Linked DNA regions of Homo sapiens: all the other regions are linked to region 1. The links come from fine-mapping of genetic effects on gene expression. A gene starts in region 1. Each other region holds a variant in brackets. All regions are shown on one strand. Distances are between the middles of the regions.

Evidence for each region. PIP is the estimated chance that this variant, and not a neighbour inherited with it, causes the effect.
Region 2: its variant is the best candidate, but not a certain one, in a credible set for the expression of PRAM1 in whole blood (INTERVAL, PIP 0.81).
Region 3: its variant is the best candidate, but not a certain one, in a credible set for the expression of PRAM1 in whole blood (TOPMed, PIP 0.78).

The regions. Positions count from the first base shown.
Region 1 is chr19:8,498,966-8,507,140 of GRCh38, forward strand. It overlaps PRAM1 (PML-RARA regulated adaptor molecule 1), which reads right to left and starts at 3,675. Exons shown (of 10, transcript NM_032152.5): 1 at 3,600-3,675; 2 at 1-815. The coding sequence starts at 3,626. RefSeq lists enhancers at 1-230, 6,840-7,340, 7,380-7,966 and silencers at 6,757-6,806, 6,827-6,926, 7,037-7,296.
Region 2 is chr19:8,463,758-8,471,932 of GRCh38, forward strand. It overlaps HNRNPM (heterogeneous nuclear ribonucleoprotein M), which reads left to right. Exons shown (of 16, transcript NM_005968.5): 6 at 1,567-1,758; 7 at 2,478-2,631; 8 at 3,778-3,827; 9 at 5,017-5,077; 10 at 7,569-7,670. Among named protein-coding and RNA genes, the nearest start is that of HNRNPM, 23 kb to the left of the region's middle. The variant T/C (reference allele first, on the strand shown) is at 4,863.
Region 3 is chr19:8,548,012-8,556,186 of GRCh38, forward strand. It overlaps MYO1F (myosin IF), which reads right to left. Exons shown (of 28, transcript NM_012335.4): 2 at 7,648-7,785; 3 at 6,643-6,732; 4 at 6,466-6,560; 5 at 5,339-5,426; 6 at 5,128-5,217; 7 at 4,022-4,153; 8 at 3,729-3,863; 9 at 2,551-2,683; 10 at 2,149-2,345; 11 at 226-306; 12 at 25-111. Among named protein-coding and RNA genes, the nearest start is that of MYO1F, 25 kb to the right of the region's middle. RefSeq lists a silencer at 4,840-5,040. The variant C/T (reference allele first, on the strand shown) is at 4,689.

The DNA of each region.
Region 1 (8,175 bases):
AAGTCACTCAGCGGAGGCTGGGAGGCCTTTTTGGGAAAGGCGCTGGAGTCGCGCTTCGGCTCGCTGGACTGAGGCTTCCAGAGGGGAGTCTGAGCGGCCTCGCTGAACTCAGGCTGCGGCACGGACTTCTTAGGGAGGCCACCGACCTGAGGCTGCGGAGGCTTTTTGGGGTACACGTTGAACTCAGGCTGCGCAGGCTTCTTGGGAAAGGTACTCAACTCAGGCTGCGGGGACCTCGGGGTAGCCTCACCGGCCTCGGGTTGCCAGAGCTTCCTGGGGAATGCGCCGGATTTGGGTTCGGAGGGGGGTCTGGCGGGGTGACTGAGTTCGTCGGGCTGCAGGGGTTTCCGGGCCGGCGCACCAGGCTCCGGCAGCGAGGCCTTCAAAGGGGCCTCACCGACCTCAGGCTGCAGGGGCTTCCTTGGAAACGGAGTGGCCCCCAGCTGTGGGAACTTCTTGGAGAGGTCACTCAACTCCAGTTTGGACGGCTTCTTGGGGAGGTCAGTGACCTCAGGCGGCGGGGGCTTCTTGGGGAGGTCAGTGACCTCAGGCGGCGGGGGCTTCTTGGGGAGGTCAGTGACCTCAGGCGGCGGGGGCTTCTTGGGGAGGTCAGTGACCTCAGGCGGCGGGGGCTTCAAGGACACTGCACCAAACTCAGGCAGCGGGGCCTTCTTGGGGTGCTCGCTTAGCTCAGGCTGGGAGAACTTCTTCAGTTTACCAAACTCAGGCTTCGGAGGTTTTTTGGGCAGGTCGCTGGGCTCCGGCTGAGAGGCCTGGAACTTTGCTTTGATGCTCCGGAAGTCCTGATGGCTCTCCTAGGAGACGCAGAGCCAATGAGGCAGGGGCTCAAACACACAGAAGGGGCATGGAAGGATGGGCCTGGGGACCCTCAGGCACAGCCCACAACCACCACCCCTGCGCCCAGGCCCGGTCAGCCCTCAGCTCTTTCCCAGGAGCCCCCATGGATCCTAGGATCCTGGGACCGACACCCCTCCCTACTTCTCCATTTAGTGCTGATTCCACACCCAACCTCCTCTAGCAGCACTGGAGATCCCGACATCCCTCCTGCAGCCTCCAGTCCCACTGCCCTCCCCCCATGGGTGGTACCCCACCCCCCCAGCATCCTTGACCCCCTCATTCTTTCACCCCTCCCACTGCATGTCTCCAGTCTCGTTCCATTGCCCAGGCTGGAGAGCAGTGGTGCAATCATAGCTCACTGCAGCTTGCAACTCCTGGGCTCCAATGATTCCCCCGACCTCGGCCTCCCCAGTAGCTGGGATTACAGGCTTGAGCCGCCGCGCCCAGGCCCCCAGTCCCTTCTGTGCTAATTTCAAAACACATCCGGAATCCAACCACTTCTCACTGCCTTCACCACTGTCACCCCAGGAGGTAGTGGGAGGCAGTGTCTGCCCTCCCCCAACCAATTGCCTGGATTACTCTAACAAGCCCTTCCCTGGGCCTCTGCCTACCCCCTTCCCTGGTCAGTTCCCCCCATGGCAGCTGGAGGGAGAAGCCTGTTGAACCCTGAGTCTGTTTGTGTCCCTCTGCTCAAAACTCGGCAATGCTTCCTCATGTCCCCACAGTTCAAGCTAAATGCCTCATAAAAGCCTGGGCGAACCAGCCTCCCTACCCAGCCACCTTCTCCTCCCTGCACCCTGAACACTTCCCTCCGACCTCGGGGCCTCTGCCCTGTCCCTGACCCAGGACATGTCTCTGCACCACCTGGGTCTCTCCTTTTCCTCCTCCCAGCCTCTGTTCTCATATTTTCTTATTAGAGAGGCCATCCAAGGCCACCCTATTTGTTTATTTTTATTTTTTGAGATGGAGTCTTGCTCTGTCACCCAGACTGGAGTGCAATGGCGCGATCTCGGCTCACTGCAATCTCCACTTCCCAGGTTCAAATGATTCTCGTGCCTCAGCCGCCCAAGTAGCTGGGATTACAGGCACTCGCCACCACACCTGGCTAATTTTTGTATTTTAACTAGAGACAGGGTTTCACCACGTTGGCCAGGCTGGTCTCAAACTCACGACCTCAGGTGATCCACCCTCCACCCGCCTCAGCCTCCCAAAGTGCTGGGATTACAGGTGTGAGCCACCGTGCCCAACCTAGACCACCCTATTTTTCTTTCTTTCTTTTTTTTTTTTTTTTTTGAGACGGAGTCTCACTCTGTCACCCAGGTTGGAATGCAGTGGTGGAATCTCGCCATACTGCAACCTCCGCCTCCTGGGTTCAAGCGATTCTCAGCCTCCTGAGTAGCTGGGATCACAGGTGTCTGCCACGACGCCTGGCTAATTTTTTTTGTATTTTTAATGGAAACAGGGTTTTACCATGTTGGCCAGGCTGGTCTCGAACTCCTGACCTCAAGTGATCCACCCACCTCGGCCTCCCAAAGTGCATGAGCCATCACGCCTGGCCTAGACCACCCTATTTTAAATGGATCACCCCATCCCACTACTGCCCTGCATTCAGCATGCATGATTTTCTCCATCGTACCCACCCCTACGTATTATACTATTTTACATTGTTTTTAATGTGTCTTGATTTTTTTTTTTTTTTTTTTTTGTCTCTCTACACCACAACTTCCCTCAGTTCCTCAGCCTCTGCAAGGCAGAGACTTGGCTCATTCATTGCTGTCTTCCCAGGGCCTGGAACATGGTAGGTGCTCAGTAAATATTTGCTGAAATAAACAATATTCAGGCAGCACAAAGACAGCCATGTACTCAGCCTGACCATCAGGAAAACACAGAGATGCCTGGAGACGGCCATGCGGTCCCTCTCACACCGTCTCTGACATGCGGGCTGATGGTCAGGAATGCTCACAGTTGACAGTGCCTGAGAGGATTGGTGCAGACACCGTGGGCACAGGCGCTGTCTCCTGCATACCCAGCTGTCCCAGCTGCCCTCCTAGCTGGCCCTGCAACCACTCCTCACAGAGGTAGGCAGATTCACAAGAAGGCCAGGCCTCCTTAGTCCTACAAACGCCCCTTTCACCTGTGGTCAAGGAGATTGGGGGAGGGAAAGGGCAGAAACGTGTGGCCTTTGCTTCCTGCGTGTGCCTCACTTTCCCCATCCAGAGGACCAGAGACCAGGATTGCTCCTTGGAAAGGCAGCAATTCCCACCTGGGGCCTGAAGTGCCCCTGTCAAAGCCCCGAGTGGTTTGAAGGAAGTGCTCCCGGGCGACCACAGGGCTAGATAAGTCAGGGTTAGCAGGTCACAACTTGGGTGACTGGACGGGGGAGGGTCATGACCCACTTTGTCACCCCGCAGGAAAGCACTGCTCTCACCCCAGCAGCCCGTTCCCACATGGCTGCTCATGTTGACCTGGGGAGACGGGAGTTGTCCCCCCGGGGAGTCCCATCTGTCCCCCTCGCAGTCCCAACCTGAGCGTGAACCCCCAGGAGCCCGCGCTGTCCTGGGGTGTGCCTGGTGGCCGCCTACCTCGGGTCCTTTTTGCCGACCCTTCCCGTTTCCCAGATGTCTTTCGCAGCCACCCCCCGCCCCCCCGCCCGCCCCTCCACAGGTGGATCCTATCCTTCTGGGAACATCTGTGTCCCTTGCTTCCCAGCCAGTGAGGCACAGGCCTCTTCCAGCACTCACCATGGCTGCAGGCAGGTGATGGGCCATGGGATGAGTGGGACCCGAGCTGGGGCCGCTGCCTTCAGGAAGTGACTGTGGCTTCTGCTCCACGGTCAGCACACAGGGTGGGGGCTGCTAGAGGTGGGGCGGGGGAGGGCAGAGGAGGAAGGGAAGGAGGTGGGGAGGCTCCAGTCCGTCTCCAGATCCTGCCAGCCACTTCTTTTTTTTTGAGACTGAGTCTTGCTCTGTCGCCCAGGCTGGAGTGCCATGGTGCCATCTCGGCTCACTGCAACCTCTGCCTCCCGGGTTCAGGCAATTCTTTTGCATCAACCTCCTGAGTAGCTGGGATTACAGGCGCGCACCACCGCTCCTGGCTACTTTTCGTATCTTTAGTAGAGAAGGGGTTTCACCATGTTGGGCAGGCTGGTCTCAAACTCCTGACCTCAAGGGATCGGTCCGCCTCGGCCTACCAAAGTGCTGGGATTACAGGTGTGAGCCACTGCCCCGGCCCCTGCTGGGCACTTCTATTTCGCTTGAATTCCTGTCCTGCCTGCTACTGTCCCAAGCTTGGGGCACTGGTTGCCCGCATGTTCCTAACATGGTCACTAGTTTCTTTCTTTTTTTTTTTTTTTTTTTTTTTTTTGAGACGGGGTATCACTTTGTTGCCCAGGCTGGAGTGTAGTGGCGCAATCTCGACTCACTGCAACCTCCGCCTCCCAGGTTCAAGCGATTGTCCTGCCTCAGTCTCCTGAGTAGCTGGAATTACATGCATGTGCCACCACTGCCGGCTAATTTTTTGTATTTTTAGTAGAGACGGGGTTTCACCATGTTGGTCAGGCTGGTCTCAAACTCCCAACCTCAGATGATCTGCCCGCCTCGGCCTCCCAAAGTGCTGGGACTACAGGCGTGAGCAACCACGCCTGGCCAACTAGTTTCTTACTCTCTATAGTCCCCATCATTCCTACTACTTTGGTGTCCCCATCTCTGGACTCCAGGGAGGACTCCATGCCAGGCCCTGGTGACCTCCTGGGCTAGAGAGCCACAGGATGGGGAGATCTCAGCAGATCAGGGGTACGGACAGCTCTGGGGTTTAGGAGGCTCCTGGGGAGGCCCAGAGGCCCAGGACGTGGGGGCCCATGTGACCGGGTGAGGCCTCTGCTGTCTGCCCTGGTTGGCTCATCCGCCTTCCTCATTTCAACACTTCCATGAAATCCAATTCCCGGCTCTGAGCAGGACTCACTTGTTCTGGGGCAGATATCACAGGCCATGGATGTCCCAGGCTGCCGCCCTGGGCAGAAAGCTTAGCTGGTACAGCAGATTTGGGGGTCGGTGGGTGAGTGGTGTCAAAGGCCTTGCACCTGGGCCACGCACGGTGGCTCACGCCTGTAATCCTAACACTTTGGGAGGCTGAGGCAGGAGGATCACTTGAGCCCAGGAGTTCAAGACCAGCTTGGGCAATGTAGCAAGACTCCATCTCTACAAAAAATATAAAATTAGCCAGGTGTGATGGTGCACGCCTGTGGTCCCAGCTGCTTGGGAGGCTGGGGTGGGAGAATCACTTGAACCCTGAAGGCGGAGGTTGCAGAGTCAAGATCACGCCACTGTACTCCATGCTGGGTGACAGAGAGAGACTCCATCTCAAAAAAAAAAAAAAAAAAAGGCTTTGCAGTTCTGGAGGAGTGAGGGGGTCTGAGGACCCGAGGACACACCAGATTCCCAGAGGTTAGAGGTAGTAGAGAGAAGAGGAACCAGGAGACAGAGACAGGGGCCAAGAGGGGGTGAAGGCAGTCACTTGTGGTGCCGAGGACTGGCCAGATAAGGACAAGCCCTGACCACAGAGCTCAGCCCACAGGAGATCAGTAATCTCCGTCACGGTAGACAAAGGGAGAAAACACCTGCTAAGAGAGTAGAGAGCCCTGGTTTTCAGTTTGAGCACATGTTGGAATTGCCTGAACAGTTAAAAAAAAAAAAAAAAGAACCGGCGGTTGGGCAGTGTGGCTCACGCCTGTAATCCCAGCACTTTGGGAGGCTGAGTCGGGTGGATCACCTGAGGTTGATCACCTGAGGTTGGGAGTTCAAGACCAGCCTGGGCAACATGGAGAAACCCCATCTCTACTAAAAATACAAAAATTAGCTCGGCGTGGTGGCGCATGCCTGTAATCTTGGCTACTTGGGAGGCTGAGGCAGGAGAATTGCTTGAACCCAGGAGGCGGAGGTTGCAGTGAGACGAGATGGCTCCACTGCACTCCAGTCTGGGTGACAGAGCAAAACTCCATCTAAAAAAAAACAAAACAAAAAACAGAACCTACAAGAAACTCTGACTTAATCAGTCTGGGGTGTGGCCCGAGCAAGTATTTTTAAAACATTTTAAAATTTTTTTTTTGAGACAAAGTCTTGCTCTGTCTCCCAGGCTGCCTCCCGGCTTCAAGTAGCTGGGATTACAGGTGCCTGCCAACATGCCCGGCTAATTTTCTGGATTTTTAGCAGAGCTGGGGTGTCACCATTGGCCAGGCTGGTCTCAAACTCCTGACCTCAAGCAATCTACCCACGTGGGCCTCCCAAAGTGCTGGGATTACAGGCCTTAGTCACTGCGCCTGGCCTGCCTGTTTTCACGCCTCCTTTAAGAGCACAGACATCAGGATTCTGCCATCTCTGTTGTGCCTTTGCATCCTGTCCTGGGGCACAGTTCCCAGATGTGGGTTGCCCTCCCAAAAAGGAGTCTCGGGAGGACAGTATGGGCTCTCTGTGGGTCTCCAGAACCTTGGCAAGTGAAGGAAAGAATGAAAGAAAGAACAAGTGGCCAGGCGCGGTGGCTGACGCCTGTAATCCCAGAAGTTTGGGAGGCCAGGCGGGCGTATCACCTGAGGTCAGGAGTTCGAGAGCAGCCTGGCCAACATGATGAAACCCTGTCTCTACTAAAAATACTGTTTGTGCACACCTGTAATCCCAGGTACCTGGGAGGCTGAGGCGGGAGAATCGCTTGAACCCGGGAGGCGGAGGTTGCAGTGAGCTGAGATTGCGCCATTGCACTCCAACCTGGGTGACAAGGCGAGACACCGTCTCAAAAAAAAAAAAATTAAATTAAATAATAAAAATAAGTAAATAAATAAATCAAGCAATGCTTGGCCACAGTAAGGAGCTCAATCAAGGTAATTAAAGGATTGGATGACAGCTGATGGATTCCCAGGTGCCTGGGCTGGTCACTACCCGTGCACTCTCGCAGCTAGGAGGGTCCAGCCAGGGCGCGCGCACCAAGGCCCCACGGGGGCGCCGTGGGGGTGAAGCGCAGGTCCCGGAGCTGTAGTCATGGTGCGCCTCCCCGCCAACTACCCTTTGTGTATTTGGCGCCTCCGTAGGGGCTCCCGGCAGGGTTCCGCGCGGCGCGGCTGCAGACAGGGACAGATAGGGTTACCGGAATCCCGGAGAAGGGAGCCCGGACCAGGGGAGTGAGAGTTCGTTAGGGCGCGCCTTGGGGAATCTGCGGGGTCGGAAACGCGAACAACGGTGTGCAGGGGGAGGAGCCCGGGGAGCACGTGGGCGGCGGATCCCAGGGCCGCAGGGCGCCCTCCACCTCCCCGCTCCTGGCCCGCAATGAGGGTAACCGGACCGGCACCTGCAAGTGACAGCTGGGGCTGGACAAATGCCGGGCACGGGCCTCTGGCCGGCCTCAGAGCTGTTCAGCGCGAGCCCGCGGCTTCCAGCCAACCTGCCCGCTATCCCCACTGCTCTCCCGGCTTTCATTCCCCCGAGTCTGAGATTCCTGGGCGCCCCCTGCTGGGCGGAGCCGGGGCCCAAGAGGGCTGGGCTCCTGTGCATGGGGGTTGGGGGCCGGCTTGAGGGTAGGAGGTCGTTTCTGCAGTGGACAGGGTGAACGGTGGAGGACAGGTGGTGAGCCAGCTCCCCAGGCCTCGCGGCAGTCAGTTCACTCCAGAGGGTAGTGTGGTGGCCGTGGGCCCGCTGTACACACAGGAAGGGCTGTCCCATCTCCGTGGGTGATGGGGTAGGGGAGAGGTCCCTGGACGGACGTGTTGGCTCTAGGTTTCTCTGGAAAGATACTGACAGACTGGGAAGAGGCGTGGCCTAGATCTGGGGGTGGCCGAATAAAGAAACTGATGGGGACAAAGACTCCTGGGGGCCCCCGGGACCCTGGAGAGGGGTTAGGGGCCTGGGGGACAGAGAACACAGCGCTGTCCCTGGAGATGGGGGAGAGGCTTGGACTACAGCCAGATCTAGGGACCTGCAGAATGCGGGAACAGGGGCGTGTCCTCTGGACCTGCTGGCAGGGTTTTCTCTTCTCGTGGTAACCGTGCGCAGCTCCCAAGATGGTGCAGAATCAGTGCCGCTGACTGGGAACTGGGGCTGGCTAGAGGCCTCCTAGCCTCACCTTCTCTATATATCTGTAAAATGGGCCCCTTCACCCTGTCCCACCCTCCTCCCCAGGTCGAGAGAGTCCCAGGCAGCCATGGGCTCGGGACGTGAAGTTCTCAGCAGACATTTCCCAAGCCCCTCCTCTCCCTGCAGCCTCTCTTTTCATCCTCGCGTCCACCCCAAAGGACTCACCAGTCATCATGACACCCTTTTAAGGACGAGGGAATTG
Region 2 (8,175 bases), 35 kb before region 1:
ACGGTCATGGTCCCAGACGGCATTTACAAAGCAAGTGCCAGCCTGTTGTTTCTAATGAAGAGTGTCGGTCATAGCCTACAGCAGCCATTCCCTGCAAGGACTTTGGGGTGGTGGCCAAGCAGATCCTGAGTGGCTGCTGACCACCTTCTAATATCTGTGATTTGTCTGAGGCCTTGTTGTCTCAGGGACTCTCAAACCATGAGCCCGTGGGTTTGTGCCATTAAGTTTTACTCCATCTGACCCTTCTTCTTGGCCCATCTTTTTTCTTTTTTTAAAAAGTGAGTTTGTTCCAGCCTGGGCAACATGGTGAAACCCCCTCTCTACAAAAGGTACAAAAATTAGCCAGGCATGGTGGCGCATGCCTGTAGTCCTAGCTACTTGGGAGGCTGAGGCAGGAGGATCATTTGAGCCCAGGATGTGGAGGTTGCAGTGAGCTGAGATTGCACCATTGCACTCCAGCCCGGGCAACAGTGAGACCCTGTCTAAAAAATAAAAAAATAAAGTGAGTTTGTTATTCCTCAAACCTGCTTTCACATCTCATCTGAATCAAATATATTCCTTGAGGAAGAAGGTTTTTTTGTTGATTAAATCCCTCTTGGCTGGGCGCAGTGGCTCACGCCTGTAATCCCCAGCACTTTGGGAGGCTGAGGTGGGTGGATCAAGGTCATGAGTTCAAGACCAGCTTGACCAACATGGTGAAACCCTGTCTACTAAAAATACAAAAAATTAGCTGGGCGTAGTGGGGGGTGCCTGTAATCCATCTACTCGGGAGGCTGAGGCAGGAGAATCGCTGGAACCCAGGAGGCGGAGGTTGCAGTGAGCCGAGATCGCGCCATTGAACTCCAGCCTGGGCAGTAAGAGCAAAGCTCTGTCTCAAAAAAACATCCCTCTTAACTTCTTTTCACCTCTTCTCTTGGGGAGGAAGATGAGTAGATTCAGAGTGAAGCTTGGTAGGGTCTAAGGTCTCTCATGTGTTATGATGTCTTTTTTAGTGCTGATGGTGGTAATTGACAGGACAGAGAGTTGAAGAAGAGAGTCAGTACAGAGCTTCACAGACCTTCCCAGATGTTGTTTTACTGCGCAGCCCTCACACACACGCCTCCAACACCTGAAGGACTTGAAGGATGGGGGCGCTTGTGTGGTCTAGAACTGTTTCTCAAACTTCTGGAAGCCATTGACGGGGTTTGCAGAAGTTACAAAACCCCATTGATGAATTAGTAAGATTCAGCTATACCAAGCCCATGAAGCTCTAATTTCAGTCTGGCGGTTCTACATTATATCAGCTAATCATGTTTCCCTCCCTACCCTGCTTTTCTTTTTTACTTAGTGCAATTGAGAGCTGTGTTTTTAGTGCTACACTTCATGCCTTTTCTTCCTTTCCTATTTCTTTAGCTGGACTCTTCTAAGCTGGTAGTTGAGTTCATTTGACTTTCTTGTTAATAGATTTGAGAGATGCTTTCCAAACAACCTTTCAGTTTCTAAGTCTTGAGAATATCATTTACTGTGCAAGCATGGTTTGCGTTGTACTGGGTCAGTTAAACGTAACACCTTTTGTGCTTGTTTTAGGATCCTGATGGTGAACATGCCAGGAGAGCAATGCAAAAGGTGATGGCTACGACTGGTGGGATGGGTATGGGACCAGGTGGCCCAGGAATGATTACTATCCCACCCAGTATCCTAAATAATCCCAACATCCCAAATGAGATTATCCATGCATTACAGGCTGGAAGACTTGGAAGCACAGTATTTGTAGCAAATGTAAGTAAACAGAACCATCGTCTAAAGTAGAAAATCAGAACTTTATGAAATGACCTTGTCAATATGTTATAAAAGTAATTCTCACATTTGAGAAGAAAAATGTAAAGAAGGGTTTTGTTCTTGATTTCTTTAAAAATCAGCCTTATAGGCGGGCTTTGTCTGCATTCCTAAGTCACAGGCTTGACCGTGGTCTCGTTGGGGCTGTGATTCCTGAGTTTCGCAGGTGTTTCCGCAAGCAGTAACCGAGTCTGCATTCTCCGTTGGTTTATTTTATGCAGTTTTGGTGCAGAGTAAGACTGTACGAGCAGAAGTGCACTGACACCTTCCTCTTGTTGTGTCTGGGGTGAATGATAATACCTCCACCATCTGCAAGGGGAAATATTTTTAGAATAAAGTAGGTTGGGTGGGGTGGGGAGTGGTAAAGCTTATCAGGGAAACAATTTTTTAAAAATGTTCAGAAAATGAGTATTAATTTGAAGTATGAGGTGACTTAAGTTTCTGAGAAAAGAGACAATATATTTACTATAGGTACAGTTTATTTACAGTGAAGGCCAGGCTTTATAATCCTATTTTAAAATTTCCATTGCAGTTGATTAGTTTTTGTGACATTATTTCCTAATACTTTTTTCCAACCAAAGCATGTATCATTCATGTAGTAAAAATGTTGTGTTTCTTAAGATGTTTACATTGAGGTTTTTACCCCGTTCTCTCTCGATTAGCTGGATTATAAAGTTGGCTGGAAGAAACTGAAGGAAGTATTTAGTATGGCTGGTGTGGTGGTCCGAGCAGACATTCTTGAAGATAAAGATGGAAAAAGTCGTGGAATAGGCACTGTTACTTTTGAACAGTCCATTGAAGCTGTGCAAGCTATATGTATCCTTCTGCAGGAATTCAACTTATGAACAGTTTGACCTAAATTGCTGTGTTAGTAATGTAGGTTTGTGTGAGGAAGAGGTGACTGTGTGTATTCATGTTTTTTATGTGACTAGGGGGAGTGCATTACTGTGGAATTAAGAGGTTCTCTGGGCCGGACCGGTCACGGTGGCTCACGCCTGTAATCCCAGCACTTCGGGAGGCCAAGGCGGGCGGATCACTTGAGGTCAGTTCGAGACCAGCCTGGCCAACATGGTGAAACCCCGGCTCTACTAAAAAATGCAAAAATTAGCTGGGCGCAGTGGTGGGTGCCTGTAATCCCAGCTACTCGGGAGGCTGAGGCACAAGAATCGCTTGAACCCGGGAGGTGGAGGTTGCAGTGAGCCGAGATTGCGCCACTGCACACCACCAGCCTGGGTGATAGAGTGAGACTCAGTCTCAAAAAAAAAAAAAAAAAAAAAAAAGGTTCTCTGGGGGTGGAATTGATTCAATACAGTGTGGATAGAGGGGATGGTTACAACATGGGCATATGCCCATGAGTCTTTCTACTGTTTTCTTTTCAGAAGAGTCTAGGTTTGAAGGAGGAAGTCCAAAGAATGTGCTACTAGAGAGAAAGTGGGGTTGTTGTTTCATGTGTAATACATCCTTATAGGACCTCACTCTTTCCAGTGAGTAGACATCATTTTGGAAGAGGCCACTTCTCCTTGACCCTAGGCTTAGCCTAGAGTTTTTAATCCCTTGGAGAGTACCCCACAGGAGCACATTCATACAACTCAGACAAGACCGTCACTGCATGTCTTACCCAGAAAACATGGTCCTTCAGTTTAGATAGTGGTAGATGCCTGGCCCATTGGTCACATTCAGAGAACCTTGATGCCACTGCTTAAGAGGATGGTTTGGTGAAATTGTAAGGTTACGAATGAAGCTTCACACCTAAGGAATAAGCGGAAGTTGTCTTGTCCTCCCCGCCAGCTTTATTTATTGTTCCTTTTATGTTTATTGTTGAAAGTATAATGAAGAATTGAAATTGCTCATAAATTCATCACTTAGAGGGACTGGTAGCAGTTGGAGTATTTTTCTTTCTTTTTGTATTTCTCTTGTGCACATTTTTAGAATTGCAAGAAATAGCCTTAATTGTAATACCAGCTATGTTCAATGGCCAGCTGCTATTTGATAGACCAATGCACGTCAAGATGGTAAGTCAGTAGGATCTTTCTCTGTGATATACTCAAGTCTAGCAAAAACATGGAATTAATAAGAGTGTACATATAGCCACTATGAAATATTTGTGGATTAGTCTAAGTTAAATAGGGTGCAGTATGTTGAGCAAAATTGTGAGAGAAATAACATTTTGCTGGTCAGGCGTGGTGGTTCACGCCTGTAATCCCAGCACTTTGGGAGTCTGAGGCAGGCGGATCATGAGGTCAGCAGTTCGACACCAGCCTGACCAACGTGGTGGAACTCCTCCGTCTCTACTAAAAATACAAAAATTAGCCGGGCGTGGTGGCACGCGCCTGTAGTCCAGCTACTCGGGAGGCTGAGGCAGGAGAATCACTTGAACGTGGGAGGCAGAGGCTGCAGTGAGCCGAGATCGTGCCACTGCACTCCAGCCTGGGCAACAGAGTGAGACTCTGTCTCAAGAAAAAAAAAGAAGAAAAAAAAACATTTTGCTCATGGCAGCTCTTGACTGCATTAGATATTTTTCCTTTTGCACAGTTGACTGTTCATGGCGCATTCAGGAAGTCACCTGGGTATCCTGGTTGAGCAAGTGATCCGTTTCAAAGAATGGTTATATATGTGGGGTTCCAGTTTTTCAAAGTATTACAGTATAATGTTTGGTTAGCATCAAATCTGTTGTGAACATAATTAAGTCATTGATTCAGACAGCTTTTAAAGGTCTGTTGGAGCACTTCAATCTTAATAAACATTTGCTCTGCCGTAACTGTGCCAAAGATAATAATTACTACAGGCATGACTGGAACATGCTGAGGGCAGTCTAGTTGGGACTCAAATTCAGGAAAAAGATAAACTATAAAGCAATTTTTTCATTACTCTAAATAGAGTAGGTAAGTTTTTTGAATAGATGATAGATTCACGTGACTCAAAAGTCAAAAGGCATGAAAAGGTAGTGTGAAGATAGTGTGAGTCCTACTTGGACTTCTTGCCCAGGTCCCCATCATCCCCCACAATAATATCCATGTGTCTTTTCCCTTGACATAAAATAGGAAGCA[T/C]GCTCCGCATGCCTTTCTACCCTTGCGTATTACTCCATGGCGTGGATAATGTGTTTAGCTGGTCCTCTCTTGATGGGGGGCCATTTCAGTCTTTTGCTGTTGCAAACACTGCTGCACTGGATACTGAGATTTGTTTGTTTTCTTTCTCTTTCAGGATGAGAGGGCCTTACCAAAAGGAGATTTCTTCCCTCCTGAGCGTCCACAACAACTTCCCCGTAAGTGTTTCAGTGATTAGGGCTGAGAGTTTGAATTGGAGTTACACTAATAAACAGAAAATTACCATATGGTTTCACTTGAACCTGTGCCAGGTTAGCCCTCAGTTCTCTTGGCCAGTTCTTTTCTATAGATTTTTCAGGGTGAGAAATGAGCAGAGATTCACAACTTGAGGATATTGTTAGGATTACCTCATGGTAATCCTAGGATTGTAATACCAGGATGTAGAGGATGTGGTTAGGCATTTTGAAAGTGTCCTGGGGAAGGAAGAATCAGAACCTGTGAAGGGAATGAAAACCAGGCTGCACTCTAATTCAGAAGATACTGGTTAGTCCCATGTGGGCTAGCAGTGCACACTAGACATCTGCACAGAAATTCGCACGCAGATGTTTGCAGCAGGATGAAAGACACATGCTGCAGTGTGGATGAACCTCGATTTCATCTACAGGAAATGCTCCGCATAGATAAATGCATAAAGGCAGAAAGTAGATTAGTGGTTGCCTGAGGCCGGGAAGGAGTAAGTAGGGACGGGACTGCTAATAAGGTTGGATTTCTTTTTTGGGTGATGAAAATGTTCTGGAATTAAATGGTAGTGATAGTTGCATATCTCTGAATATACTAAAAACCACCGAATACTTTGAGTTTTATGGTATGTGAAGTGTCTTGAACAAATAATTTGTATGCAGAGGGGAAAGGGATCAGCTATTTGTGACACCCAGGTGAAAATCTGTCTCGTGACAGGGAAGGCTAGTTGATGGGCTACCACATAGGTAGAAGTGGCAAATATTAGTGCAGAGTCATAGATAAGCCAGAGGCTGGAAGCAAGAACCTCAGTGCATACAGCGGTGGGACGACTCAGGGAATCACTGGCGCAGGTAAAGCTCTCCTGGAGAAGAAAGATGGATGAGGGTGAGAGGCCTGTGTGTGCTGTGCTGGGGTGACCTCCACCAGGCGGGTTGAGGGGGCCTGGTCTGGAGCAGCAGCTCAAGCTCAGGGCCCTACTCACTGAGTTGGATGGGAGCCCAGGCCAGAGCACCTTTGCAGCGTAGCATTATGGCAGCATGACAGATGTATCTTGAAGGGAAATCTGTGGCTTCATGAGAAGGCTCATCTGTTGAAAGGCAACATTAGTTAGAGAAGGATTGCATTTCCTGGACATAACATACTCATTTCCCAAATAAATTGTCAGTGTGCTCACCTGAGCAGTGGTCACCCTGGACCATGGCGATGGCTCTTGTTGACTCTTGTGCTGGAGCAGGAGGAGGAGCACACTGCTCCAGGGAGCCTGTTATCCATGGCTCTTGGTCTCCCGGCCATTTCGGAGGCTTGACTTCAAAGCCTTCAGTGCTTTGGGAGAGTAAGTCACCGTGGCGATCTCTTGCTGCTGTTGCTATGCAATTAAAGATGGAATGTTCATCAGATGAAACGCCTGGGAAGTGGTGGCAGGTTTTATTTACTTTTTAAATGAACTTTGTTTGCTTTCTTTCCTTCCTTTCTTCCTTTTTCTTTCTTTTTGATGGAGTCTCGCTCTGTCGCCCAGGCTGGAGTGCAGTGGTGCGGTCTTGGCTTGCTGCAACCTCCATTTCCTGGGTTCTAGTGATTCTCCTGTCAGCCTTCCAAGTAGCAGCGATTACAGGCATGTGCCACCATGCCAGGCTAATTTTTTTTTTTTTTTAGTAGAGATGGGGTTTTGCCATGTTGGCCAGGATGGTCTCGAACTCCTGACCTCACGTGATCCACCCGCCTTGGCCTCCCAAAGTGCTGGGATTTCAGGCGTGAGCCACTGCGCCTGCCCTTGTTACGATTTTTAAAAGCTTACCTGGTTGTAGTTTAAGCCTCAGATGGTGGTTACCCCAGATATTGCAAGTGTCAGCTCTTTTGGCTGTTTCCAGAGACCAGCCTGTATTTCTGTGTCCCTGTCTGTGTTGGTAGGGCATGGAGTTGAGTGTGGGCTGGGTATCCAGTTGTGGGTTGGGAAGCTTTGGGGGAAGGAAGATAGGTTCTTTGAATACATACATTAGCTTCATTGTTACTAAAACCACCCAGATTCAGAGAGTAGTGGACACCCAGGATGTTGATTGGCTGGTTTGTAACGTGTTTTTTCATGAGAAACATCCTTTGGGCTACTAGGGATTGGGCACATTTGTGCTGCTTGCCACCTGATGTCTTGAGTCACCTTTTTTGATCAGACAGTTCTCAGTCCATGGGTTAGTGAAACAAATAGGCTCTCAAGAATCTTAGTGTGGGGGTTGTTAACTTTCCCGTGTTGGTTTTCAGCCGCCTTTGTTGTATACACACATATCCCAAACGCCGGAACAAGGCTCTGTTTCCAAGTGTGCCGATGTTGAATTTTGCATTGGGCCCTGAGGTCACTGGTGGGTGGGGGTGGGTAGGCTGAAGTGGATAGCTGCAACTCACTAAACACTCTTTTCCTTTGAGGGTCAAGGTTTGCTAAATAGGGGAAAACTAAGCTTCTTTCTCTTTTCTTTCCAGATGGCCTTGGTGGTATTGGCATGGGGTTAGGACCAGGAGGGCAACCCATTGATGCCAATCACCTGAATAAAGGCATCGGAATGGGAAACATAGGTCCCGCAGGTGAGAATGACAGTGCACCTTGCTTGGTGGTTTGGGGAAGTGAAAATTATTAATTATTGGGACAACTGGACTTTGAGTAGTTTAAATGGAATAAATATTTAACTGGGACAAAATTCCCTCCTTATTCATCTCTGCCTCATTTTGAATAAAGGCAGTATTTTGTATTTTTATCAAGTTGAGTCATTTTTTAAAAAGTCATTATGCTTTTTCATTGTAACCTGACAACAACCTTCTAAGCTGAAATAGTTGTGCCATTTGATAAGAGGAGGCAAGCCAGAGAGTTGATCTTGCTCAAGGTCACACTGTCAGTTACTGACAGGCTGCAGGTCTCCTGACCACGGGACCATAGCACTGCCGCAGTGCCCTGAAAAGTGTCTTACCAAGACCCCTTTGGGCCCTCCTGGTGTTTGCACAGCTGCTGCTAGAGAGCTAGGGGCATTGATAGATGCAAAAAAGGTGGAGAGGCCAGGCACGGTGGCTCACGCCTGTAATCCCAGCACTTTGG
Region 3 (8,175 bases), 49 kb after region 1:
ATCCCTGACTGCTTGGCCGCCCACCTGCTCGGCCTTCAGGGTAAGTTCGATAAAGATTTGCTGCAGCTTCTCATTGACGAAGTTGATGCAAAACTGCTCGAAGCCATTTTTCTGCAGAAGGAGGAAAAGGGTCCTTCCCTCAATGTCCTGGTGCTGGAAGTTCTTGTGGCCACCCTGGGCTGCCCCAGGGAGGACAGGATGTGGGCTGGAGGCAGGGGGCCGTACCTGGAAGATCTCGAAGCCGTAAATGTCCAGCACACCGATGCTGTACTCTTCCTGGGGTTTCTGCATAGCACGGTTGATGGCCTGCGGTGTGGGTGGGGACAGGAAGTCAGTGGGCATCGGTCAGATCTGAAGCCCCTGCCCACCACTCCTTAGACACACGCCTAGCCAACTTCATGGGTGATGTCCCCTCATGCCAGTTTCCCTCCAGCCCTCTTTAGCTCTGCCCTTCCTGGCTCTGTGTACAGTCTCCCCACCCCATAATCAGTCACTCAGAGGAGAAACCCAAGTGTCAGTGTATCAGGGTCCCTGACTCCAGAGCTGACTCTGCCCCTGAACCTCTCTGCACCTCTATTTTCTTTTTTTTTTTTTCTTTTTTTTTTTTGAGACGGAGTCTCACTCTGTCGCCCAGGCTGGAGTGCAGTGGCATGATCTCGGCTCACTGCAAGCTCCGCCTCCAGGGTTCACACCATTCTCCTGCCTCAGCCTCCCAAGTAGCTGGAACTACAAGGGCCTGCCACCACGCCCGGCTAATTTTTTGTATTTTTAGTAGAGACGGGGTTTCACTGTGGTCTCGATCTCCTGACCTCGTGATCCGCCCGCCTCGGCCTCCCAAAGTGCCGGGATTACAGGTGTGAGCCACTGCGCCCGGCCTTGCACCTCTATTTTCTTATCTTTAAAAGGGGTTGATAATAGCAACTACCTTATGGGGCTTTTTCTTTTCTATTTTTTTTGAGATGGAGTCTCATTCTGTTGCCCAGGCTGGAATGCCAGTGGCGCAATCTCGGCTCACTGAAACCTCTGCCTCCAGGATTCAAGAGATTCTTCTGCCTCAGCCTCCCAAGTAGCTGGGATTACAGGCATGCGCCACCACGCCCGGCTAATTCTTGTATTTTTAGTAGAGACGGGGTTTTGCCATGCTGGCCAGGGCTGATCTTGAACTCCTGACCTTGGGTGATCTGCCCGCTTTGACCTCCCAAAGTGCTGGGATTACAGGCATGAGCCACTGCACCTGGCCATACATTTTATACTTTATTTATTTTTATTTTTTATTTTGAGACAGGGTCTCAGTCTGTTGTCCAGGCTGGAGTGTAGTGGCTTGATCATGGCTCACTACAGCCTCAACCTCCTGGGGTCAGGGATTCTTCCACCTCAGCCTCCTGAGTAGCCGGGATTACAGGCACCAGCCACCATGCCCGGCTAATTTTTGTATTTTTGTAGAGACAGGGTTTTGCCATGTTGCCCAGGCTGACTCCATACATTAAAAAAGTTTTTATTTTATTTATTTATTTATTTTGAGACAGAGTCTCTCTCTGTTGCCCAGGCTGGAATACAATAGCACGATCTCAGCTCACTGCAACCTCCACCTCCCAGGTTCAAGTGATTCTCCTCCCTCAGCCTCCCAAGTAGCTGGGATTAAAGGCATGTGCCACCACTCCCGGGTAATTTTTAGTAGAGAGGGGGTTTCACCATGTTGGCCAGGCTGGTCTCAAACTCCAGACCTCAAGTGATCCATCCACCTCAGCCTCCCAAAGTGCTGGGATTACAGGCATGAGCCACTGCATCTGGCCAAAAGTTTTTTTTAGAGACAGGGTCTTGCTCTGTCACCCAGGCTGGAGTACAATAGCGCAATCATAGCTCACTGCAGCCCCAACCTCCTGGGTTCAAATGATCCCCCAACCTCAGCCCTCTGAGTAGCCAGAACTACACATGCACACCACTACACCCAACTAATTTGAAATTTCTGTAGAGATGGGGGTCTTGCTATGTTGCCCAGGCTGGTCTTGAACTTCTGGCCTCAAAGAATGCTCCCAACTCAGCCACCCAAAGCATTGGGATTGCAGCCGTGAGCCACTGCACTCAGCTTCCATAAATGTTTGTGACCCCAGAGCATCCACTCTGCCTTCCAGCCCCAGCCCCACTCGCCTCCACGAGGAAGTCGAAGAGGCGGGCATAGAGCCCCTTGGCCAGGGCATCACGGGTGTAGGCTGCCTGCTCCACGTTGAGGGTCACATTGATGGACTCGCTGCGCCCGCCCCAGCGGCTGTCCATCTTGCGGCTGGTCAGCTTCTCCTGCAGTCGCCCGCTGTCAATGCCCAGCAGGTAGGCGGGAAAGGCCAGGACTACCAGGGCAAAGGTCAGGGCAAAAATGGGACAGTTGGTTGGGCTCTTGTGCCTCCTGCATGGGCCTCCTATTATCCCCATCTTGCCCAGTGACACCCACATTTTTTTCCTCGTGGGCTTTCAGCTTCCTGGGGGCTGAGCTAGGAGGACGCAGTTCACCCACCCACAGGCCTCCATCCAGCCCTCCCTGATACCCACACTCACGGTCCACACTCTCCACTCGGGCGTAATTCCCGTCTTCACAGAAACTGATGTTCCCCAGGTGCAAGATCCCCGCCACGAGCTGCAGGACCAGCTGCTGGATGCTGGGCGGGATCCCAATAACCTGCATAGCACTCTGTGGTACAACGGGGGCAGAAACTGTGCCGTGAATCCTGGCCTCCAACCTGCCTCCAGGGGCAGGCTTGAGGGACCACAGCACGGACTCAGGGAGTGAGCACCCTTGGGTCCCTGTCCTACCCCTTTCAGTCACTTGCCGCGTGACCTTGGGTAAGTGCCTGCACCTCTCTGGGCTTTGTTTTTTATTATATTTTTTATTTTTGAGACAGAGTCTCCCTCTGTTGCCCAGGCTGGAGTGCAGTGGTATGATCTTGGCTCACTGCAACCTCCTCATCCCAGGTTCAAGCGATTTTCCTGCCTCCGCCTCCCGAGTAGCTGGGATTACAGGCGTGAGCGTCGTGTCCGGACTGGGCTTTGGTTTCCTATTTTTTTTTTTTTAGAGTCTCACTCTTTCACCCAGGCGGGAGTGCAGCGGCGCTATCTTGGCTCACTGCAACCTCCACCTCCCGGGTTTAAGCGATTCTCCTGCCTCAGCCTCCCTAGTAGCTGGGACTACAGGCGCATGGCATCATACCCGGCTAATCTTTGTATTCTTAATAAAGATGGGGTTTCACTATGTTGGCCAGGCTGGTCTTGAACTCCTGACCTCAGGTGATCTACCTGCCTCGGCCTCCCAAAGTGCTGGGATTACAGGTGTGAGCCACCGTGCCTGGCCTTTTTTTTTTTTTTTTTTGAGATGTAGTCTCACTCTGTTGCCCAGGCTGGAGTGCAGTAGTGTGATCTCGGCTCACTGCAACTTCCACCTCCCGTTTTCAAGCAATTTTCCTGCCTCTGCCTCCCCAGTAGCTGGGATTACAGTCACACGCCACCACATCTGGCTAATTTTTGTATTTTAAGTAGAGACGGGGTTTAACCACGTTGGCCAGGCCGGTCTTAAACTCCTGACCTTAAGTGATCTACCTGCCTCGGCCTCCCAAAGTGCTGGGATTACAGGCTTGAGCCACATGCCTGGCCTGGGCTTCGGTTTCCTAATTTGTAACTCAGGAGGGTTTCTGGGGCTGAGGTCTGCCTGGCCGGGGACTGGAGTAGAGGCCGGTGCTCACCAGAGTCTCACCAAAGTCGCTTCTGTCGTCCGTGCCGTCCACCTGGTAGGTGTCCGATTGGTTGAGGTAGTAATAGTAGTCCGGTGTCATGAGGCCCAGGTTCTGCCTTTGCTCCTGGGAGGCCCCTTCCAGCAGCTGGAGGGTGTGCCATGTTCATGCATCTGGTGCTTGCCTGGCTCAGCCCCTGTGATCCCTCATCTGCCCTGCCATGCCCCCCTAGGTGTTTACCTTCCCATTGTCCACCCCGCTGGGCTCCAGGTGGTGCTCCCTCTCCCCCGGCCCCTTCCCTGCACCTGGTAGTAGATGTGGAAGTTCCTCTCATTTTCATTTTGCATGACCACGCGGGACTTCTCCAGCAAGAAGTTGGAGATCTTGCCCCCATCTGGCTCCCCACCTCGGCTGAACTGGATCTCAAAGTACTTGCCCTGAATCCGAGAGAACCATGTCAGCACCCCAGTGTCCTGGGGTGCAGGTGGGGGAAGGGTTGGGGATGGGTCTTATGAGCCTTGCCTCTCTTCCCTTCTTCCTTTTTTTTTTGAGACAGAATCTGACTCTGTTGCTCAGGCTGGGATTCAGTGGCGCAATGTCGGCTCACTGCAACGTCCACCTCCTGGGTTCAAGTGATTCTCCTGCCTTAGCCTCCTGAGTAGCTGGGACTACAGGCACCCGCCACCATGCCCAGCTAATTTTTGTATTTTTGGCAGAGCTAATTTTTGTATTTTTCATCATGTTGGCCAGGCTGGTCTTGAACTCCAGACCTCAAGTGATCCGCCTGTCTCAGCCTCCCAAAGTGCTGGGATTTCAGATGTGAGCCCCCACACCCAGCCCAAGGGTATGGAATTTATTAAACCATGTCCATGTGCAGGTGTAATACTGAAGTCTATGAGATGGATATTAACATCGTCACCATTTTATGGATGAGCAAACAGAGGAAACTCAGGAAGTTGCATAGATTTTTTT[C/T]CCCCCCAGGCTACACAGCTCACAGTGATAGAATCAAACCCTGAATCCATATCTGTTTACCTATCCTGACTTTCACTGGGCCCAGCGCAGCACCCACACAAAGAACGAGTCCCAGAACTATTGTCGAAAGAAGGAATGGATGAGGGAATAAATTGGACCTGAAATGTGAATGGGAACAATGTAGCATGGCTGCAGCCGGGGGAGCATTTAAGAATGTTACACAGGGGTGTCATGGCCTCCACAGTTCTGCCAATGGGGGACTCTCTTTTGAAAGGGACCATGAGCAGGAAGTGAGTCTCCCCTTCAGGAGTAGGTATTTCCTGCTGGGTTTTCAATGGACTCTTGTCTTGGCAATACGGGTGTGTGTATGTGTGGGTGTGTGTGTAGAAAGGTCAGCACGGAGGGAGCAGCTGCTCCAAGCAGGTCTGCAGAGACTTACAAAGCGGCTGGAATTGTTGTTGCGCACAGTCTTGGCGTTGCCGAAGGCCTCGAGCAGCGGGTTGGACTGCAGGATGATATCTTTGACGTGCTGGGGCAGAGGCAGGTGGAGTGGGAAGAAGTCAGACTGAGGCAGGAGTGCAGATGGGTGGGGCTGCACTACCATGCAGGTGAGGGCGACCCAGCTTATCCTTCTGTTTTCCTCGTCTCACCTGGACCTTCTCGCCTCCGCCAGACACCTTGGAGATGTAGCCCATGATATATTTGGCTGCCACTGTCTTCCCAGCTCCACTCTCTCCACTGGGGATGAATGGAGGAATAAATGATCAGTGGTTGGGGAAGAGCCCTTTTTAGTGCCTGACCATTCATTCATTGAGCACCTACTGTGTGCCTGCCAGTATTCCGGGTACTGGGGATACTGTAATGAACAAGACAGATAAAATCTCTGCTCTCAGCCGGGCATGGTGGCTCCTGCCTGTAATCCCAGCACTTTGGGAGCCTGAGGAGGGCGGATCACTTGAGGTCAAAAGTTAGAGACCAGCCTGGCCAACATGGTGAAACCCAGTCTCTACTAAAATACAAAAATTAGCCGGACATGGTGGTGGGCGCCTGTAATCCCGGCCACTCAGGAGGCTGAGGCAGGAGAATTGCTTGAACCTGGGAGGCAGAGGTTGCAGTGAGCTGAGGTTGTGCCACTGCACTCCAGCCTGGGTGACAGACTGAGACTCTGTCACACACACACACACACACACACACACTCTCTCTCTCTCTCTCTCTCTCTCTCTCGCTCTCTTTCTCTCTCTCTGCTCTCATAGAGCTGGCATCGATTGATTGACTGAGATGGGGTCTCACTCTGTTGCCCAGGCTGGAGTGCAGTGGTGTGATCATAGCACCTGTTCCTGCCTGGAACTCCTGGGCTCAAGCAATCCTCCCTCCTCAGCCTCTTGAGTAGCTGGGGACTACAGGCGTGCACCACCGTGTCCGGCTAATTATTATCTATACAGAGACAGGATGTTGCCATATTGCCCAGGCTGGTCTTGAACTCCTAGCCTCAAGAGATCCTCTCGCCTTGGCCTCCCAAAGTGCCAGGATTACAAGCATGAGCCACTACACCTGGCCTGAGGTGACATTTAGAGGGGACAGACAGACAATAGCAGAATGAATCAATAAAATACATCGTGAGTCAGATGGTGACAAGGAAAATAAAACAGAGTGAGGGCAGAGAGGGACAGCAGGGCAATGTTCAGATTGGGAGTTTCAGGCAAACCTCCCTGGGGGTGGTGATGTTTCAGCAGGGGCCCGGGCAGCAGGGTCTGTGGCCCCCCAACTCTGTCCATACCTAATGATGACACACTGGTTCTCACAGTCGATAAGCATGTTCCGGTACATGTTGTCCGTGAGGGCGTAGATGTGCGGGGGATTCTCATACTGGGCCTGGCAGGGGAGGTCAGGTCTCAGCCCAGGGCTGGGGGCCAGGAGTCTGGGGGCTGTGCCTCCCACCCAGCCCCAGCCTCACCGCGCCCTGATAGAGGTCGATCTCACGGTCGGTGAAGTAGGGCATCTGCTTGAAGGGGTTTACAGAGATGAGCACAGAGCCGATGTAGGTCTGAGGGATGGTTAAGGGTCGTGTGGTGTCCTGGTAGGTTTTGTCCTCCCTGTCCCCTCATCCTGCCCCCACCCAGGGCTTCCTAAAACTCCATTGCTTGGAGGTGGAAGAGATGGAGATAATGGATGCACCTCGAGTCTCTTGGAAAAAACAGGGCTGGCCGGGCGCGGTGGCTCATGCCTGTAATCCCAGCACTTTGGAAGGCCGAGGCAGGCGGATCACTTGAGGTCAGGAGTTTGAGACCAGCCTGGCCAACATGGTGAAACCTTGTCTCCACTAATAATACAAAAAATTACCCGGGCATGGTGGTGCATGCCTGTAATCCCGGCTACTTGGGAGGCTGAGGGAGGAGAATCGCTTGAACCTGGGAGGCAGAGGTTGCAGCGAGCTATCGTGCCATTGCACTCCAGCCTGGGCAACAAGAGCCACTCAGTCTCAAAAACAAAACACAAAACACAAAAAGCAAAAACAAAAAAATTAGCCAGGCATGGTGGCGCATGCCTATAATCCCAGCTACTTGGGAGGCTGAGGCAGGAGAATCATTTGAATCCGGGAGGTGGAGGTTGCAGTGAGCTGAGATTGTGCCACTACACTCCAGCCTGGAACCTGGGCGACAGAGCAAGACTCCGTCTCAAAAAAAAAAAAAAAAAAAAAAAAAAAAAAGAACAAACAGGGTTGGATCCGGAATGGGGGAAATGGAACACGCTGGGGCTGAGCTTCCCCAGGACAGAGGGAGCAGTGGCAGCCACAGCTGCCCCCAACCAGAGCCCTGCTGTCACTCTGTCTGTCCTCTGTGTCACCACTTGGTGCTCTCCCGGCCCATTCCTCCCTCTGCTCCTTCACCCTCCTCTCCGTCCATGGCCCAGCCATTCATTCCTTCCCTGCCTGCCCACCCCCAGCCTTGGCCCAGGGTACGAAGATGTAGTCGTCCATGAAGCGCTTCCGGAGGTTGGCGGCAATGGCGTCTTCGGTGATCTGGGGAAGAAGCACCATGTCATCCACGCCGCTCTGCTTCACGTTGTGGCTCTGCCAGTGGAAGCGCTCCTTGCTGCCCTGGGGGGTGAGAGGGGGGTCGGGGTGAGCCCTTGCACGGGGATGCGGCACCTGGCTCACCGACGCTATCAGCTTCTGGGTTCTGTCCCACCTCCCCCGCCCCACCTCCATTCCTCCTTCCCCATCTCCAGGAGAGGCTGGCAGGGTCCAAGCCAGGCCCCCTGCCCCAGACAGAAGTTGCACTGCTCGGATCCAGCCCTCAGCCCTCTATTTTTTTTTAATTTTTAATTTTTATTTATTTATTTATTTTGAGACAGAGTCTCACTCTGTCAGTCAGGCTGGGGTGCAGTGGCGTGATCTCTGCTCACTGCAACATCCACCTCCCGGGTTCAAGCGATTCTCCTGCCTCAGCCTCCCGAGTAGCTGGGATTACAGGTGCCCACCACCATG